2 separate regions of the Homo sapiens genome follow, and region 2 is linked to region 1. The links come from fine-mapping of genetic effects on gene expression. A gene starts in region 1. The other region holds a variant in brackets. All regions are shown on one strand. Distances are between the middles of the regions. Region 1 holds the start of AEBP2 (AE binding protein 2). Region 2 has its middle 110 kb from the start of AEBP2.

Region 1 (5,381 bases):
AAAACTCTGACACATATCACTTGGTTTTTTTTTGAGACGGAGTCTCGCTCTGTCGCCCAGGCTGGAGTGCAGTGGCACCATCTCAGCTCACTGCAACCTCTGCCTCCCGGGTTCAAGCGATTCTCCTGCCTCAGCCTCCCGAGTAGCTGGGAACACAGGCGCGCGCCACCACTCTCGGGTAATTTTTGTATTTTTAATGTAGATAAGGTTTCACTATGTTGGCCAGGCTGATCTCAAACTCCCAACTCAGGTGATCCGCCCACCTCGGCCTCCCAAAGTCCTGGGGTTAACAGGCCTGAGCCACCGCGCCCGGCCTCAACTTATTTAAGGCGAATTATTTTAACTCTTCAGTGGAAATAATAGGGGACTTGAGAACCTTTGCTCATATCCAGCCCACCATTTCCATGCTGTATTTACTGTCCTGAGTAAGATACTCAACTTGCTTCTTCATCTGTTAAACAGAAGTCAAAATAATACCTATCTTGCACCATAGTTGTGGGAATGAAATGGAAGACATCTAATTTGTACAGTGGTAGGCAAGCATAATACGTGTATACTGAGTAAATGAAAAACGCTGATTTTATAAACTAATGTCAACTTTCAGATATGTAATGGTATCAGAGGAGCATAAAATGGTAAAAATAGCACATGCTTCATTGTGCAGTTTACATCAATTTTTAATTTTCTTGAAGACATTCTCCTTCCTACCCATGCCTACACAGTTCAACACAATTTTTCTAAGGTTTATACAGTCTACTTTACCCGAAGATATTTTCTTAACTAGACGTTAATGTCAAACAGAATCTAATGCCAGATTTTCAAAATATCCAGGACTCTGTATTACTTGTAGCATTAAATACTAAGGTGTTCGTTTTTAATCAATTAATCAGAATTCCTAGAACTTTAGAATATTAAACTCTTAAATGAAAATCACTATCGACCACTAAAATTTCCATTGCTATACTTTTCTGGAGAGCATGTTTAAAAAAAATGTGATTGTCAAAACATAGATGGTCAAAATAAACGCTAATACACTTTAGAAGTGGCATAATATGCATGTGATTCTCGTTTTTTTAAAAGTACATTAAAAACCAACTAACCCAAACAGATCAAAAGTAATGATAAGACAATTGAAACATACACTATCACACTTTTTAAATGTTCTGAAAAAATGCGCATTTTTGTCACTCTCCAGTTACTTCTAACAAGCTTTAGTAAGAAAAATAATACTCATTCCTTCCGAGACCTCTCCAATGCATGACTTTAAATATTATCATTTAAAATCATGACTCTCATGTTGAAACATTACTATAAAGCCGCAAACTACGTTGTACCTTCAAGACTGTATTTTGTTACGATTCCAACTCTCTGATTCCGCAAAGTTATCTTAAAAGGCCATCAATTCACTATTCTTTTCCACAACCATTTATACGTGTTTAAAACTTTTTCCCAGATATGCTCCCAAAACAAATAGAAAAGATTGTTAAAATCACGTTGGAGACCACATGACTGACTACAAATGAGGGATTTGGGAGGCAATGATTTAATATAAAAGAACAGTCCTTTTTTTGTTTAAGTAGAGAAAAGTGATAGCTGGGGTCTCTCCCATGGACAAGGAAGTTCTGTTAAATCCAGGCGAGACCAGCCATATTGGAAACACTTGTCAATTGTAGTTCTGACAAGTGTTCCCGAACACGGTTGGAAGAAGCTAACCTTGAGTACCGACGTGTGTACATCAAGGCCCTCTTCTGCTCCGCCAGAGGATCTGGGCCCGTTTGGGGACTGTTTCCGAGTTAGAGCCGTCCTGAGGTCCGTGAGGAGCGAAGCGCCGAGGGGAAAGAGGGCGGGGAAAGGAGAGTTGGGGGGGAACGGTTTGAGAGTTGGAAGCCGCGATGCGCTGCGAGAGGGGCGCGGCGGCGACGGCGAGAGATTTCCGAGTTGAGAGTCTGGGGGAGGGGCCGAGGATTCGGGGAGCAGGGGGATCGCGGCAAAACGTCGCCTTGGTCCCCCTCTGAGGGGCCCGGGAGTTCAAGAGGAGGAAGGGAAGGGGAAACGCTTCAGAGCACTGACCTGTCCTCCGAGTCCATGCGGCTCAGGGGTTCCCCATCCGACGACATCTCCAAGCTGCCCCGCCGGCCCCCGGAGGTCGCGCTGCTTCCGCCTCCCCCAGTCCCGTAGCCCTCGTCGCCGCCGCTGGAGACTACGCTGCTGCTACTGCTGCCGCCCCCGCCGCCGCCCTGGCTGCCCCGCGGTCCCTTGGGCTCCTCCAGGCCCTCCTTGCCGTCCCCATCCCCGCTGCTGCTGCTGGCGGCGCCGGGGCTCAACGAGCGGGTCTCGTCGCTGCTGCTCCCGCCGCTGCTGCCCACCAGGCTCTCGGCGCTACTCTCCTCCTCACCCCCGCCGCTGCTGCTGCTCTCATCTTCCTCCTCCTCGTCGTCCTCCTCCTCGTCTTCGTCCTCCCCGGCCTGGCTGGCGCTCTCGGGGCTCGGCTCCGACATCGTCTCTGCCTCGCCGCCCCCCACTCCTCCGCCGCCGCCTCCGCCGCCCCCACCGCTGCCGCCGTTCAGCAGCAGCGCCGCCACCGCCTCGGCCTCCGCCTCCTCTTCCTCCTCCTCCTCTTCCTCCTCCTCCTCGGGGGGCTCAGCCCGGCCCCGCGCCGCCGAACCCGGGCTGCCGGGGGGCAGAGGGCTCAGGCGGGAGAGCTCCTCCAGGTCGGCCATGTCGGTGATAGCGGCGGCCATGGCGGCGCCTGCTCCTCCTCCTCCTCCTCCTCCCCACCGCCGCCTCCCTCTCTCGACTCTCTCTCCCTCGCCCCCCTCCCAAACGCCCAAAACTCCGCCGACGCCGCTGCAGAGCAGGAGGAGGGCCCGCGAGCTGCGTCAGCCTGCACACGCGCTACGGAGCCCGCGCGGGGACAGGCGCGCGACTACGCGCACTCACACGGAGACTGCTGCGCGCCTGCGCGGCGGCACGAGGCAGCACCTCCCCCGGCTGCGGGTTCTGCGCCCCCGCCCCCGCCCGGCGCCCGCCCCGCTGCCCAGTGCCCGCCCCCGCCCCCGCCCCGGCGCCTGCAAGTGCTCAGCGTTTCCTCGGGGCCTTCCCACGCCCTGCCGGGCTTCGAAGCCCAGGGACACGCGGACTGAAAACTCCAACGCTGGCCGGGGATTTTAGCAGCCTTCCGAGTTCTCACGATAAACTCATTCATTCCGGGGGTGTTTGAGGAGTGTCCCCTCTGTACAGGAGCTGAGCCAGGAATAGAACGAGCCTACAGTCTACGAAGAGAGCGGTTTAAAATGGGCAAAAATTAAAACACTACGGTGTAAGGTACTAAATTTTTATGCGCAACACAGGGCGACAGGTTTTAATACACCCTATGTTTGAATACCCCTGGAGATGTTGACATCCTGAACCCAGAGCAAACATCTTGGTTCAGGGTCCTCAAACTTTTTACTTCATGAGCCTTCTAAAACAATTTCGTAAAGCTGTGTATGTTCTTATACAGTTTAGAATGACAGCTACATTTTTCCGGCTTATAAATATTTCATCTGTCGCATTGTTTAAATACTGTATAGCCAATGGATTCTAAATACCATAGGGATTTAACACCCACTAATATCCATTTTTTTAAAATACAGTTTGGAAAATACAATTTCCAAATATTGTTTTCTGGAACTCATATTGACGTTGCATATCTCCTCTAGAATTTTATCCTAGTAATATATTTTATATTTGAACTATTTTGATCGTCTTACTTGTAATAAAAATGTGAACATAAATTGAAGTATCTGGGTTGTTTTTTATATTTTCTGTGATCATAAAGCTCTTATTTCAACCGATCAAAACAAATCTATTTCAAATGTTTGTAAGTACTAAACACAAAAGCAAAATTTTATTGGCAATGCATCTTGCAGAAATGAACTTGGGTGGACTTTTTTCTAATATACATTATGACCTTCAGTGGATGGATTTTTTTGAGAAATAGTTCAGCATCAGTTCTATTCCAAGTTTTCAATTCCATGGATATAAGTGTTGAGAAAACTTGTTCGCATAAAAAAAGCAGATGAGAATGAATGGAGTTTTGTTATAGTAATGCCACACAATTCTTTGAATGCCTTTCGCATTATATGCCCAAAAATCGCATAAAGATCTAACAAAGAAAAAATACTTTTAATGATCTGTCAGCTGACAACTCTGATTAGGTTCTCTTTCAACTTGTTGAAAGCAAGCAACTGAAAACCACCTGACTTGTGAAAGGATGTGTTACCCCATTCTTATTCACCAGTCAATTGTGCCTTTCTTTGGTGTCCTGGAGGTTTTTGCATAACCGGGTATTGCACCTTACTAAGATTTAGCATGAGGAAGAATTATGCCTTTCTTTTGTAAAGTAGGGAAGAGGTCATTGGAAGAAAGGAGACTGGAAAAGAGCCCACATTACACCCTGACCCAAGGACACATTTTCAGGCCAATTTTAGGGATGCTTCTACTCAAGGAAAATGAGGATAGAACTGACTGCCTGAAAACAGAGCCTCCATGCTCATTTCCCATTTGGGAAAGTCGTCATATACCGTGAGTACCCAGTATTACATCCTCTGCCTTAGGCCTTTGGACAACTGTTATATAAAATGTTGCCTCTAAGGGAATGCAAAAATAATAACATGGGACATCATTTACAGATACCTTCAGAGGCACATACAATGTAAGGTATTAACTTCCAACATTTTAAACCTCAAAGGCAATCTTAGATAAGGAATGTATTAAAGTGAAATACACTGTAAACTGTAAATTAAAAACTATCAGAAGGCCGGCAGGGTGGCTTATACCTGTAATCCCAGCACTTTGGGAGGCCAAAGTAGGAGGCTCACTTGAGCCCAGGAGTTTGAGACCAGCCTGGGTAAAATAGCGAGACCCTGTCTCTACGGCACACCTGTAGTCCCAGCTACTCAGGAGGCTGAAGTGGGAGGTTCACTTGAGCCCTGGAGGTTGAGGCTGCAGTGAGCCATGATCATGCCACTGCACTCCATACCTTTCCTCACCCATCATAAGGGTCATGGCCAACACTTCTACAACAAAAGACAGGTTAACAAGAGAAAAGTGTAACAAATTAATTTAATGGAAGTCTTATGTGACACAGGAGCCTTCAGAAGTAAAGACCCAGAGAAAGCTGTCCATTTGTATGCCTAGATTCAACAGAGTGGACATCCATGTAGAAATGTGATTGTACAAAAAGAGAATGAACTAATAGTAATAGACTGAGTGTGGAAACCCAGCAAGGCCTGTCCAGATTCGTCTTGACCTCTCTGTGTAGCATTCCTTCCACACCCAGGTATAGAGCAGACTTCTCTGGAATGAGAGTCTTCAAATGAGAAGGCAGAGAGTGACCT
Region 2 (5,381 bases), 110 kb before region 1:
TAAAGCTTCATAATTGTTAACCGTATTAAGGCATTGCCTGTAAACTGAGCACCTTTCAGAGTTATTTATACTAATAAGGATGGTCAGTTCTAGAATGTATGTTTTAACATTGAAGTTTTTAATACTTTCAAGACAAGGTTCTGGTACAGATATTTCCAATAAAAATATAAATAACATTTTTGTTTTTAAAAAAACTCCAGTAAGTAAACATCTCTGGAACATAGCTGTACGAGGTAAAGTACCTAGATGCTACTTTTAATTCAGTGGTACATGGTTTCCACATCACTGCTCACAACAGCAGGAATGTGTTAGCAACACAGCTGAAACCAAGTTTACACTAAAATACAAAACTATTATTACTCTTTTGAAATCTCAAGGGAACGTCTGACAGAACATGCCACTAACAAGATGTTTTCAAAAGTCACCTTGAGGCTGGGCCCGGTGGCTCACGTCTGTAATCTCAACACTTTGGGAGGCTGAGACAGGTGAATCACTTGAGGCCAGGAGTTTGAGACCAGCCTGGCCAACATGGTGAAACCCTGTCTCTACCAAAAATACAAAAATTAGCAGGGCATGGTGGCATGCCTCTGTAATCCCAGCTATTCGGGAGGCTGAGGTAGGAGAATCTCTTGAACCTGGGAGGCAGAGGTTGCAGTGAGCCGAGATCGCACCACTGCACTCCAGCCTAGGCAACAGAGTGAGACCCTGTCTCAAAAAAAAAGTCACCATTGAATAACTCAGGCTATTATGACATTTGGCCACACAGCGTTGGCCAAATATGACGATGATTTAAGCTTCCCCGGGAGTCCATTCATCAGCTCCTTTTAAAAAGTGAATACTCCCCAGTAAGGAAGGTGAGTGTTTTTAAAGATATTGTCAGTAATTTAACACTGGTATATAAATTCCCTAATGTTGTTCTTTCAGACTTCTGGATCAGTTTGACTGAAGGAATTGAAATTGAGATTGCAAAGTGACATGGTTAAATGTTTAAAAAAAAAAAAACTACCATTTTTAATTAATTATCTGTGTGGGCCAAAATTTTTCTCCATATGGTACCACCAAACAAAATACAAAAATAAGTTAGATAATAATGTTAGTATAACACTGCAGTCGTTATCTATAACTCTTACTGTATATTGATTTGTGTCCCCCAAAACAATATGTTGCATTCCTAACTTGAATCAGATGTAATCAAGTTAAGATGAGGTGATAGTCAATTAGGATAGGCCCTTAATCCAATATGAGTGGTGTCCTTATAAGAAAAGAAAAACAGGGCCGGGTGCGGTGGCTCACGTTTGTAATCCCAGCACTTTGGGAGGCCGAGGCGGGCGGATCACTTGAGGTCAGGAGTTCGAGACCAGCCTGGCCAACATGGCGAAACCCAGTCTCTACTAAAAATACAAAAATTAGCCGGGTATGGTGGTGCGCACCTGTAAACCCAGCTACTTGGGAGGCTGAGGCAGGAGAATTGCTTGAGTCCGGGAGGTGGAGGTTGCAGTGAGCGGAGATTGCACCACTGTACTCCAGTCTAGGGGACAGAGAAAACAGTGACACAGACAGGAGAATGCCGTGATAACTCAGACACAGAGAGAAGGCGGCCATATAAAGGCAGTGATTGGAGTTTTGCTGCCACATGCCACACCAAGCCTGGCACTACCAGATGCTGGAAGAGGCCAGGAAAGATTCCCCGCTAATACTCTAGAGGGCCGATGGCCTGGCAACACCTTGATTTTAGACTTATAGACTCCAGAACGGGTAAAGAACAAATTTCTGTTGCTTAAAGCCACCAGTTTGTGGTAGTTGGTTAGGGCAGTCCTGGGAAACGAATGCAACTCCCATTTCAATTGTTTATGAACACCAAAACAGCCTCTGTTCTCATTGCATAACTTTTGGATAAAGATTATAATTGTGAATTCATAAATTATCTAATAAAATATAGTTTTAATCTGTTACATACTAGAGTTTACGTAAAATTGCATTTGACAATAGGACATCACAATGGAAAAAATAAAATTAAAAAGGAGAACTTAAGTTCACTGCCTTAGAGCAAGATGGATGCAGCTGGAGGCCATATCCTAAGCCAATTCCCACAGAAACAGAAAACCAAATACCGCATGCTCTCACTTACAGGCGGGAGCTACATCTTTGGCATACATGGCCATAAAGATGAGAACTATAGTCACTGGGGACTCTAAAAGGAGGAAGGGAAGAAGGGAGGGAGCCAAGAGCTGAGAACCTTCTTATTGAGTACTACGTTCACTATCTCTGGGAAGGGATCAATAGAAGTTCAAATCAATCACAGCATCACACAATATGCCCATGTAACAGACCTGCAGGTACACCTTCTGAACCTAAAATAAAAATGGAAATTTCAAAATAGATAAATA[AATAC/C]ACTGCCTTAGTTCCACCACCTCATTTTACCTATCAGTTCGCTAAGGTGTAAAGGGAGAGAAAATGACTTGCCCAAGACAACAAAGAAAATTTGAAGCCAGGTGTGGTGGCTCACGTCTGTAATCCCAACACTTTGGGAGACCTAGGCAGGCAGATCGTTTGAGGTCAGGAGTTTGACATTAGCCTGGCCAACATGGTAAAACCCCATCTCTACTAAAAATACAAAAATTAGTATTTTTTGTACATGCCTGTACTCCCAGCTACTTGGGAGGCTGAGGCAGGAGAATCACTTGAACCCGGGAAGCAGAGGTTGCCGTGAGCAGAGATCATGCGACTGCACTCCAGCCTGGGTGACAGAGTGAGACTTGGAGAAAGAAAGAAAGAGAGAAAGAGAGAGAGAGAGAAAGAGAGAGAAAGAAAGAGAGAGAGAAAGGGAAGGAAGGAAGGAAGGAAGGAAGGAAAGAAAGAGAAGGAAAGAAAGGAAAGAAAGAAAAGGAATAAAGAAAGAAAAGAAAGAAAGAAAGAAAGAAGGAAAGAAAAAGAAAGAAAGAAGTAATTTATTTGCCGTTGAGCTTGAAGCTAGGACTTTTACATCTCCTGATTTCTAGTTCAGTATTTTTCTCTTGACCCTGTGACAAGGCTTCATTCTCCAGGTGGAAGCTTAGAATTATTTAAGAAGACATTCTTTCCAGCATAAAGATATTTAAATAGCATGGTTCCCACATAATGCTCTCAAGAGATTGCCTTTCATATTTAAATAAAAATATATTTCTTATCCTAGACAGGTCTAGAATTTATCACAAATCTAAAATTATGTATTATTTATTCAGATGAAGAGCTAAATTCTGCCTTTCATGATGGCAAAAGCAAACTTCAAACCAAACTGTTCTGTTGCTTCAGGAAAAAAGGAAGAAAGGAGGGAGGGAGGGAAAGAAAGAAGGGAGGGAGGGAGGGAGGGAGGAAGAAATGGAGGATTTATGTCTACTACTTTCTATATGAACAAAACAATACTTTTTTTTACCCTGGGATATTATACTTATTTAAAAGGAAGAAAAAAGTAGTAACAACCCCCATATTTCCTGTCATGCTTGTGCTGCTGAGGACAGTAAATTTTAGGGGTCATTTTGGTCCTTATTCAGGATGTTAGAAGCCCCAGTATAGTGTTTTGGACACTATTCAGAAGTCTCATCCAACTTAATTCTTGGCCCAGTTCTTGCCTTTGTTGAATTCTCTCCAGAGGTCAAGGTCAAAGGGACCTCACTGAGAAAGGACTCAAATTGGGAAAAGAATGCAGGGGCAGCAATTCCTTTTTTATTTCTCAAATCATCAGTGATATGGAAGGTCAAGTATGCAGGCCTGAGATGGAAACAGTGTGTTTCCCTTTCAAAGAGGAATGTTAACAGGATGAGAAAACAGACTTACAAATATGAAGAAGGGTGGAGTTTTACCCAGGCTCAGGGAGTTGAAGGCTGAAAGCTTTTGAGTTTTCATCAACATAAAAATATCCTAAGTAAAACATTATTTGCAGATGGGGCCACTACTTAAGAAAATTATGGAGCCAAATGTGATAGAGGAAAAAGTTCAGTCCTTGGTTATAGGGGGAAGAAACAACTCTGAAGGAGCTTGTTCCCCTCCTGGAACTGTATGCCCTTGCAGGTCTGAACTTGAACCTTACTCTGAGAGGCACTGGTTGGTTAACTCCACCCCAGAAGTACCGATGGCTCATTTTTGGGGGTGTGCTGTATCTCTAGTCAGATCTAGAACTTGCTATAAATGTAAAAACCATCACCACCCACTGGAAGCTATTCCAATTAGCCAGAGAAGCCGTCTTTGTGCACCATTTGGCTGCACAAAAGCTGAACGGCAAGGGCTGAATATGTGCTTCAGACAGGCCCTGCAAACTCCATATGAAAGGCTGAGGGTGGTTGCCATGAACACAATTTTAGATTATCTCCTTCTTCATTCAAGCTTTCAGAAAGAGCTTGCCACCAGATTTGTTAAAAGGATCCCAGCTCACGTGAGTGATTTCTTGGCACAAAAAGCCTTCCTTTCCTGTTATATTACAGCTTGTGTGCCGCATTTCTTCAACAGGCAAGTTCTCCTTCACAAACAGAAAGCAAGCTCGTGCAACCGATGGCAATCCTAAAGCTACATTTAGATAGCCCAATTCCTCAGCTTTAGCTTTAAAACGATTAGAATCATTTTCCCTCAAACATCTTTATTGCTTCACCTGAACTGGCCAATATTTTGTAAGGGTTTTTTCTATTCTTTCTTTTTTTTTCTTTTTGCTAATAAGGCTAATAAGAAAACAATCTTCAAAAAAAAAAAAAGAAAACAATCTTCTTGGGTTTTTGGTGCTAAAATCATAAATGGTCTTTCTTGCAGCATTGGAAAATATGACTATAACTGTGAAAACTATGTTTACTGCCCAGCAAACATGCATGTCCCAATACTCTGGAATAGAAATCAAAGGCATTTCATTGTGTGAATGGCCTGTAGCTGGAATCTCTCCAGGCAAACAAGAAGGTGAAGACACAGAGCAGGACCTCAGGCAGCATTCTGAGGACATGAAGCAAGCTGACTTCTGACTGGTAATAAATAGTATTATCTTGCCTCACTTCACGGAGAGGCATCCAAAGCAGTGTTCTCTATTTACCTCCTAGTGAATGATATGTGCCGAGAGCCAGAGAAATCAGCGACCAGCCAGAGAAATCAGTGACCAGCTCGTAGTCATGCAGATGAATATATCACGTATCACATTGCTCTCTATTCTGATTTTCACCTGAAATTACCACTGAGATTTTGAGGTCAAACAAAAGATTTTCTGCAAAACATTGAGAAATGCAAAGTTCTCTAGGGACTTTTCAGATGCAATGTTTTGAAATAATTTACTCCTCCACAAAAAGATTGTGAGGCAAATGGGTATTTTGTGCCATTTATTATACCTGGTGTGGACACAGAAGTGTTAACATTTTTACATAGGAGTTTCT

What was found. PIP is the estimated chance that this variant, and not a neighbour inherited with it, causes the effect. A credible set is the group of variants that fine-mapping cannot tell apart.
Region 2: its variant is the best candidate, but not a certain one, in a credible set for the expression of AEBP2 in whole blood (INTERVAL, PIP 0.85).

Annotation. Positions count from the first base shown.
Region 1 is chr12:19,437,060-19,442,440 of GRCh38, reverse strand. AEBP2 (AE binding protein 2) reads right to left here and starts at 2,949. Exons shown (of 8, transcript NM_153207.5): 1 at 2,071-2,949. The coding sequence starts at 2,741. RefSeq lists enhancers at 1,692-1,781, 1,812-1,861 and silencers at 2,512-2,611, 2,622-2,771, 2,832-3,081.
Region 2 is chr12:19,545,771-19,551,151 of GRCh38, reverse strand. No RefSeq gene overlaps it. Among named protein-coding and RNA genes, the nearest start is that of AEBP2, 110 kb to the right of the region's middle. The variant AATAC/C (reference allele first, on the strand shown) is at 2,388.